Homo sapiens: one gene and its partner. The protein of the gene in region 2 purifies or fractionates together with the protein of the main gene of each other region. This does not show direct contact. Each region holds a gene or a part of one and is shown on either strand. Other genes may lie near its edges.

What was found.
Region 1: the proteins of VIPAS39 (region 2) and VPS39 fractionate together in Homo sapiens (co-fractionation; one large-scale study listed by BioGRID). This does not show direct contact.

The regions. Positions count from the first base shown.
Region 1 is NC_000015.10:42,163,305-42,166,804, forward strand, and holds part of VPS39 (vam6/Vps39-like protein), read right to left. Parts: coding exon 3,468-3,500; intron 3,346-3,467; coding exon 3,259-3,345; intron 2,929-3,258; coding exon 2,855-2,928; intron 2,513-2,854; coding exon 2,414-2,512; intron 1,810-2,413; coding exon 1,692-1,809; intron 1,586-1,691; coding exon of another isoform or gene 1,569-1,585; exon of another isoform or gene 1,415-1,568; intron 1,183-1,414; coding exon 1,054-1,182; intron 425-1,053; coding exon 322-424; intron 92-321; coding exon 46-91; intron 1-45. UniProt on the Homo sapiens protein: Regulator of TGF-beta/activin signaling, inhibiting SMAD3- and activating SMAD2-dependent transcription.
Region 2 is NC_000014.9:77,450,288-77,455,651, forward strand, and holds part of VIPAS39 (spermatogenesis-defective protein 39 homolog), read right to left. Parts: intron 3,816-5,364; coding exon 3,723-3,815; intron 3,115-3,722; coding exon 3,012-3,114; intron 1,047-3,011; coding exon 900-1,046; intron 1-899.

The DNA.
Region 1 (3,500 bases), on a different chromosome or scaffold from region 2:
GGAGAGGTATGCACACGTGCTCCCTGGGTCAGGGTCACTACTCACATCTTTGTTGCCATCTTTGTTTCGGTCATAGTGTTTGTGGCAGTACCTGCAAGGGAGAGAGTGGTGAGAGCAGGTGGTGTGAGGGGGGCACATCTAAATGAGAGGCTGTGCGTGCAGCCTGCTCGAGCAGCCTAACCACAGCCAAAACTGCGGGCCAGGACGGAGGCGATTCTTGCTCCCGCAGTGGAGTATGGGGAGATGGCCTTCTTAACTCTCATCTCTCTGCAGGGCCTGCTTTTAGACTGCTTAGGAGGTGGGATGTTGGGGCAAACTTACTCCTCAGCCATCCTTGTATCCTTCAAGATGTGGACATAAATGAAAAGAGCTTGTTCATGTTTCCCCATGCGCCCCAACAGGAGAGCTCGTTCTTCTAAGAGGCCTAGGAGGAAAAGGAATATGAGGAACCACTGCCGCCATCACGCAAGCACAAGGTGGGGGCTATGCTGTCAGAGGAGTGGACACGAGGCAATATAAAGGGAAGACAATAGGATTCTTATTGCTTGGGTTTTTCTTCAAGGAGAAAATAACTGAAGTTTAAAAAAGGGGGAGGGAGCTATTTTAGGAAGTACTTTATCCCATCTTTTTTGAGGTCACATATAAACTGGGTAAGAATATTCATTCAGCAGCCAAGTACTTAACAACCACCTACAACATGCTAGGTGGTTCAGGTAAGATGAGCAAATGCTTGCTCTCAGCTCTCATAAAGACAAATTATGCCAGATTACAAAAACTGCTGAACAATGAACTTGGCCAAGAACATGTTCTGAAGCAAAAAACAGGTTGCAACCTGGCTATCAATTAGCATGTGGTTCATACCCAGGAAGGAGACTTTTCTCAGTCACGGTACAAAAGTGAGTCTTCAGAGAGGACAAAACAGGAGCACTGGCCTGAAATGCCTGGTTTTTCCAGGCCCAACTTTTGTGGAGAGTTGGGGAACAATTAAAGGGGTGGATTAGTCTTTGCATGACCTTCGCTGAAGTGGCTTCTGGCCCTAAGCCAGACACTCACCATCAAAGGGAAAATCACAGATGAGCCGGCCTGGATCATAGTAGCTGGAAATCTCCAAGAACATGAGGAGCTTTTGCCGGTATTCTCCCAGCTCACCCTCTTCCTCTCCAGCTGGGACTGGGGTTTTGCCTTTAAGGGAAACCAAGCTCAAAATGAAAGGACACTGCCAGGTGGCAATGTAGGGTCATCAAGAAAAATGAAGGGAATGGGGTTCAAGGATGTCACCACATGACCAGAAAGGGCCTCCAGGGTGGCTTCCATGCTAACTTCTTTTAGTTCATAGTCTCCATGTGGCCCCAAAACATCAGCTTACGGTTAAAAAAATAAGCTGAATAGAGAAATACTCTGTGGGCAAACCTGTTTCTTATCAGTATAGCTGTCATCTTGCAGACAGGTCTGTTCCTTCCACCCTCCCCGAGGGATGACTCTGAGACACTCAGAGATGCCAGGACCTAGACAAGAGCTCCTGAGTCTCATGTGCCAGGCTTGTGTCACTTAGCTCCCCTGGCTCCTCTTCAGAACTTCTGCGCACCTGGGCAGAGAATAGGGTGGCCTGCTTACCCCCACCACACGTGGCACCTGGGTCTGTGCTCTCCTCTAAGGCCTGGGGCCAACCGGCTTCCTAAAAGAACTGGTACCTGCAGGGAAGGACAGGAGATACTCCTTCATCAGACCTTGCACCTTCTCACAGTATAGCTGGATCAGGCAGTTGTGGAACCGAGAGCCTGTCTCCTCCCAAACATGGATGATGTGTTCCTGAGGCAAGATGTAGGTCTTTGTCACTGGTATTCTCCAGGCTGTGACCTGGTCTCCCAGCCTCCCTCACATTTTTAAGGCCCAACAGGTCCCATCCAGATTATCCCCTAATCGGGCTGCAAAGATGACTAAGAGACAGCTCGTCTAAAGCCACCAGGAAGTTTCACAATGCGACCCAGTAACGTGAGGAGCCATCTTCTCAATTACTAAACTCCATTTTACTAATTTTGTCCCATAATCCTCCAAACTCTCATAGCGACTCATGTAATTGTGGTTAAATATCTGCATCCTGGTACTTAAGCCTATTTGATTGTCCTGTGGTCACTTTTGAGTTTCGCTTTGGAATTTTTTTTCCAAATGTGGCTTTGGAATTTTTTTTTCTAAAACATTATTCTTTTATCCCTCTGTAGTTTACCTAGATTTGGTAGGTAGCATTTCCAGCTTGGTCTACTGGGATCTTTTTCTTCAGAGGAAGCTGAAATAACCCTCATCCTTCCAATCCCCAAGTGACATAAATCCCAAATCTGAACAGCCCGATAACAGAACCACGCAGTCCTGGATCCTGGGTTTAAAGCTTTTTAGTGCAGACCAAAAAATACCTTACCAGATAAGGAATAGCCAGACCCTTAAAATTCTCTATTAAGAAGCCGAGGACTCGATCACGTGGCAGAGACTCCACTTCCGGGAGATCTTCAGTAAATATCTGTTAGAATGAACCCGAGTTCCAGCAGCAGAACCATCTGACTGCAGTTCCAGCAAACACACACGCATGTGAGCGCAGGGATCAAACAGACTTTAGGAGGGCAAGGGTACGAGAAGGCATCTGTAGGCAGTCAGCATGTCAGACGAGGCACAGGCCTCCTCATGCCTGTGTAAGGCTCTCTCTACCAACTACAGTGCTGGCTCGCGCTTCCCAGTCCACCCTTTCTTCATGCACCAATGAAGACAGATGCATGAATCCACCCTCCTCTCCATCCACTGCTGTCTCAAGTGCAATCAGAACCAAGTGTTTACCAGATAAATCCAAGGGACTCCTGTGGCTCACCTTCAGGCCATCTTCTGGGAAGTCTCTCAGCACCCACACTGAGTAGGAGAAAATCAAATGCAGGTTTTCTGTGCCTAGAAGGAAAAGCAGGACTTGTCAGCAGTTGAGGCCCATCTTGCCTGTGGCACTGGGAAGGCAGGTGGGCAGGTTGCCCCAGAATTCATTTTCCTGAAAAGACAGCTCAAGCATGAGCCACTTGGGGTTGTTAGCCCTACTGGGCTGGCTCCATACCAGGGGGCTGTCACAGGCCAACCACCGAGGGACTTTTATGCCATTTGGAGGAATGAAATTGAGTGAACACGAGCACGGGAGGGAGGGGAGCAACCAACCAGAAACAGAAACAGAGGGAGACCAGGTCATTTGAACAGGAGCGCTTTCCCACCCCTTTCAAAAGGCGGACTTACCCAGATGCTGCAGATACTGCACTGTCCTCTCGTGGCCTTTCAGAGGGGAGTTGGCTTTCTTGGACTGGTCCACGAGCACCTGCAGAGCTGGCCACCAAGCCCAAGAACAAGGTCATGAGCCTTTTCCCCACGGGAGATTTCCATATCTCAGTGGGTTTCCCCTGCCATGTACAAGAGCCCCTCCCAGATCCAAGGAACCACTCCCACACCTTTCTCGTGGAGCCCCTTCTTCTCATACAGGA
Region 2 (5,364 bases):
ATGTATGGGAATGTCGTTCTTCTTTAATGCTGAGTAACATTCCGCTGCATGTATATGGCACATTTTGTTTATCCATTCATCCATCAATGGACATTTGGGTTGTTTCCATCTTTTGGCTATTGTGAATAATGCTACTATCAACATGGAGGTACAAATATATGTTCAAGTACCTGCTTTCCATTCTTTTTGAGATATACCCAGAAGTAAAATTGCTAGATCATATGTTATTTATTTATTTATTGAGATGGAGTTTTGCTCTGTCACCCAGGCTAGACTGCAGTAGTGCAATCTCGGTTCACTACAACCTTTGCCTCCCAGGTTCTAGCAATCTGCCTCCCTCAGCCTCCTGAGCAGCTGGGATTACAGAAGCCCCCACCATGCCCGGCTAATTTTTGTATTTTTAGTAGAGACGGGGTTTCACCATATTGGTAGGCTGGTCTAGAACTCTTGACCTCAGGTGATCCACCTGCCTCAGCCTCCCAAAAGTGCTGGGATTACAGGCGTGAGCCACCACGCCTAGCCAGTTATATGTTTACTGTTTAATTTTTTTTAAAAAACCACCATACTGTCTTCCACGGTGGCTGCACCATTTGGCATTCCCACCAACAAGGTTTTCCAACAGCAATGCACAAGGAGTAGGGAGGAATTTTGATCTAGGCAAATTTTTTCAGTACCAGTCACAGGGTTAATGTCAATTTCATTCATCATGCTATAGAAAACCAGTCCAACTCCTCTGAATTTCTCTCATTTATCTCGCTCCTAACACCCAGCTGCCACCTCCAATGAGAATGCTTTACCCTTCAATAATCTTTTTCTTACAAAGTAAATGAAAATTATGGCCTAAGATTTTTCTGGAAAAAGAGAAGGACTTCCCTATCCATTTAAGCATCTCTCTTTACCTCTAAAAAAGCTGCTCAGGGAGTAGGTAGAAGTAGGCTTGGGTAGTTGTGCATAGGAGGAGAAGCTGTTTCGGCTCTTTAGCTGTTCACGCCCCTCGTGGGTTGAGCCGCTATTACCAGCAGTCTCTCTGATGGACCATGAGATACCTGTGAGATAGTAAGAACTACATCAGCAATTCTCATCCACAATAAAGCCTTGACATCCAACATTCAATAAACTCTAAAAGCTTTTCACCAGAAGCCCTGGTCCCTTGGCCAACTTGGGGCAGGGAGAAAAGATAGAATCAAATAGACTAATCAGCAGAAAAATGGACCAAGGACATGAATAGGTGGATCACAGAAAATTCAAATGGCTCTTCAACATATGAAAAGATGCTCAACCTTACTCTTTTTTCTCTTTTTTTCTTTTTTTTTAGAGACAGGGTCTCACTACATTGCCGGAGCTCTGGAGTACAGTGGCTATTCACAATCATATCTAACAGTCATGTCTCACGTCAGCCTCAACTCCTGGCCTCAAGCCATCCATCGCCACTACCCTCCAGAGGCACACACCACCTGCCCCCAGCTTTGCTAAGAGTACTACAAATTAAAAATATAATGAGAAACCATTAGTCCCCTATAAGATGGGGAAAGATCCAAAAGCTTGATAATACCGTGTTAGCCAGGCTATAGGGAAACTGGAACCCTCCTCCATTGCTGGTGGTAGTATGAATTGGTACAACCCCTGTGGAGGTCAATTTGGCAATATCTACCCAATACAGATGCAAACATCCTATGTGAGTAATTCCACTCTAAGAATTGCTCTTTCATTTATGCATCTATGGTCAGAATATAAAGTCAATGATAGAAATATAAAGAGCAAAAGATTGAAAAATCTAAAATTCAACAGTGGGCTGGCTAAAAAATGATGGTAAACCCATACAATTTAATACTATGCTGCTATTTAAAAAAAAGAAAGAGAAAATGAGAACACTCTTTATATACTGACATGGAAAGATCTCCAAGCTATATTAACACATAAAAAGAGCAAGGTATGAAGCATGCTACTGCTTGTGTAAAAATGGGATAAGAATACATGTTTCTATATACTTTTCCAGATGCAAAAAGAGTCTTTAGATGAATACACAGGAACCAAGCAACGATTGTTTTTTGGGAGGACATGAACTGAAAACTGAGAAGATACATAACAATATGGAACGGAAACTTTTCACTGTAGACCTTTAATTTTTTTTTTTTAATCTTTAGTCACATTATAGTATGGCCTATTTTTTAAAAACTTTCAATTAAAAATATTTCTTAAAAATCAGATGGGGACCAGGGATGGTGGCTCATACCTATAATCCCAGCATTTGGGAGGCCAAGGCAGGCGGATCACTTGAGGTCAGCAGTTCAAGACCAGCCTGGCCAACATGGTAAAACTCCATCTCTACTAAAAATACAAAAATTAGCCAGGCATGGTGGTTGGCACCTTTAATCCCAGCTACTAGGGAGGCTGAAGCATGAGAATCGCTTGAACCTGGGAGGCGGAGGTTGCAGTGAGTCAGGATCGCGCCATTGCACTCCAGACTAGGCAACAGAGTAAGACTCCATCTCAAAAAAAAAAAAAAAAAAAAATCAAATGGACTCTGAAAAAGTATTAAGTGGTATCATATACAGCTAAGCAGTGAGACTTGGTGGGTAAGGAAGTCCGTTCTGTCAATCAGTTATTAGTATACTGAGTCAAGTCAGTAGTTCCCAAATATGGCTATATATCAGAATCACCTGCAGTGTTTATTAAAATTTGAGACCCCCTCTACTCCGCAGAAGACCTAATGAACAGAATCTCTGGGATAAAGCCTAGGAGTATGTCATTTTAACAAGCACCCCAAATGAGAATGAAATAGCCAGCTAAGAGTCAACCCCTGAAGAGCAGACCTATATAGCCATGTGGGAACTCCTGCTGGATTTCCCAAGTATCTTCTCCTGGAGTTAAGTTTCCAGATGTATGCTTATCTGAAAATAGTCTTATCCTAGTCCCTCTCCTAACTAGCATTGAAGAAACAAACAAGTAGAGCCTTTATCAGTGATAAGAATCCTCAACATCTATCCCTGCCTAGGGACTCTTCTACTTACTTCCCACAGGTTCCCCACTCCAGCTGACTCGCTCCAGGTCATCATCGTCATCATCATCCACGAAGTCTCGGAGGCTGTTCACCGCCCGCTTGGACTCCTTTAACTGCAGAGGGACACAAGGCTAGGGTGCTCAGGCAAATCATCATTTCCCACCTCTCTTCTGACAATCAAGAAGGCTGAGGAATTGGGGCCTGAAGGTGGCCAACACTCGCCCTGTGCAATCGAAAGCCTAGCATACTACATATTTGCCAAGAAAACAAACTGATTTTTAGCCAACACTACAGTCCAGTGATAAAAGAGTTAGGAGGAATCAAAGTCACTTTTGAATTCTCATCATATTCCTGGCAGTGACTTGCTATGTAAACCTGAGTGAATTTATTCACCTCTCTAAAAATAAATGATTCCTCAATTGCAAAATAGACACAACAAAGATAAATCTTCCAATCCAGTTCATCTTTCAAAAATAAAAAAATATATATCACATAAATAAAAGACTTGGGGTTCTTCAAAAGAAAAAAAAACCTGTAGGAATAAATCATCTTAAAAAGGTAAAGTAAGAAAGGCAGTGAGCTGGATTTTACAATCCTTCTGGCTCTTTTCTGAGCCTAATGAAGACATACATGGTCAAAAGCCTAGTTACCCAGAATGCAAGAGGAAGGAATTTTATAGTGGCACTGTGGAGAAGAGTACAAACTTCAGCAGTTGACCTACCTGTGAAAGCTCATCGTCTTCATCGTCAAAGGTAAAAGCCTTGAACTTGGAGCTGTTCCAATACTCCTCCTCATCACCCTTTGTCCGATTCATCTACAGTGACAGGAAAACATACATTGCCCCTTTCTGGGTCTCTCCCTAAAGAGTTCCAAAAGCTTTAGTTTCCTGCACCACTAACTGATCCCAAAAATCAAGGATGCAGAAAAGAATCTGGTAAAACAAATATTGAACCTGCCATATAAAACCAGATTCTTGGGTCTCCAACTGATCAAATCATACTTCTAATCTTCTAATTACCCATAAGTAGTCATCCATTCTTAAGAGCATCCACTTTGTCCAGGGCACTCTCTCAGGTGTTGTAAGGTATATAAAAAAGTGCCAGAGGCTGGGTGCAGTGGCTCAGGCCTTTAATCCCAGCACTTTGGGAGGCCGAGGCAGGCAGAACACCTGAGGTCAGGAGTTCGAGACCAGCCTGACCAACATGGAGAAACCCCGTCTCTACTAAAAATACAAAATTAGCCGGGCATGGTGGCGCATGCCTGTAATCCCAGCTACTCAGGAGGCTGAGGCAGGAGAATCGCTTGAACCCAGGAGGCAGAGGTTGCGGTGAGCAGAGATCGCACCATTGCACTCCAGCCTGGGCAACAAGAGCGAAACTCCGTCTCCAAAAAAAAAAAAAAAAAGTGTCAGACGTGGGGACCCTACAACAGAGCTAGGGCATTCAGCATAGGTATGTATTAAAAGCAACAGTGCAAGGCAGGCAAATGTTATAAGAATCTATCAAAAAACTTTGCTGAATACACAAGGAAGAGCAATCAGAACATGCACAAAACAGACAAAAATTGCATTCACATTTTCAACAAATACTTATTGAGCACCATCTCTGAGGCACTGTTCTAGGCTCTGGGAATACTACAGTGAATGAACAAATATTCCACCCTCATGTATGCTTTTTAAATGCCTGAAAGAACGGAAAGCAAAGCAATTAAAAGAAGCAGAATTATCTCACCTAAATCTTCAAATTATGACTATTTTATTAACAACTGTTGGCCAAAATTTGAGAAATGAGGGGATGGCCAAGAAAAGCAAGTATATAAAGAAGTAGTCAAAAGACCACAAGTCCCTGTTATAACTACTATAAAATTCAATTTTGCCCTGCAAAAACAAGTTTTGCCCTAGAATTACAAACTAGGCAGGGCACAGTGGCTCATATCTGTAATCTCAGCACTTTGGGAGACTGAGGTGGGAGGATCACCTGAGCCCAAGTTCAAGACTAGCCTGGGCAACATTGTAAAACTGTCTCTACAAAAAAATTTAAAAAACAAAACAAAAAACTAGCTGGACATGGTGACGTAGTCCCAGCTGCTTGGGAGGCTAAGGTGGGAGGATCACCTGAGCTTGGGACGTCGAGGCTGCTATGAGCTGAGATTACACCACTGCACTCCAGCCTGGGTGACACAGTGAGACCCTCCCTATCTCCAAATAAGGAAACAGAATTACAAAGTAAACTATCAATGCCAACAGGATTAGAATGAAAACTATGATTTAAGCCAAGGACTGGGTATAAAACTCCCACAGCACCAAAAATAACTGTAAAGGCTAAACAGCATCAAGTTCTAAAAGAACCATTTGCTTTTCCTTT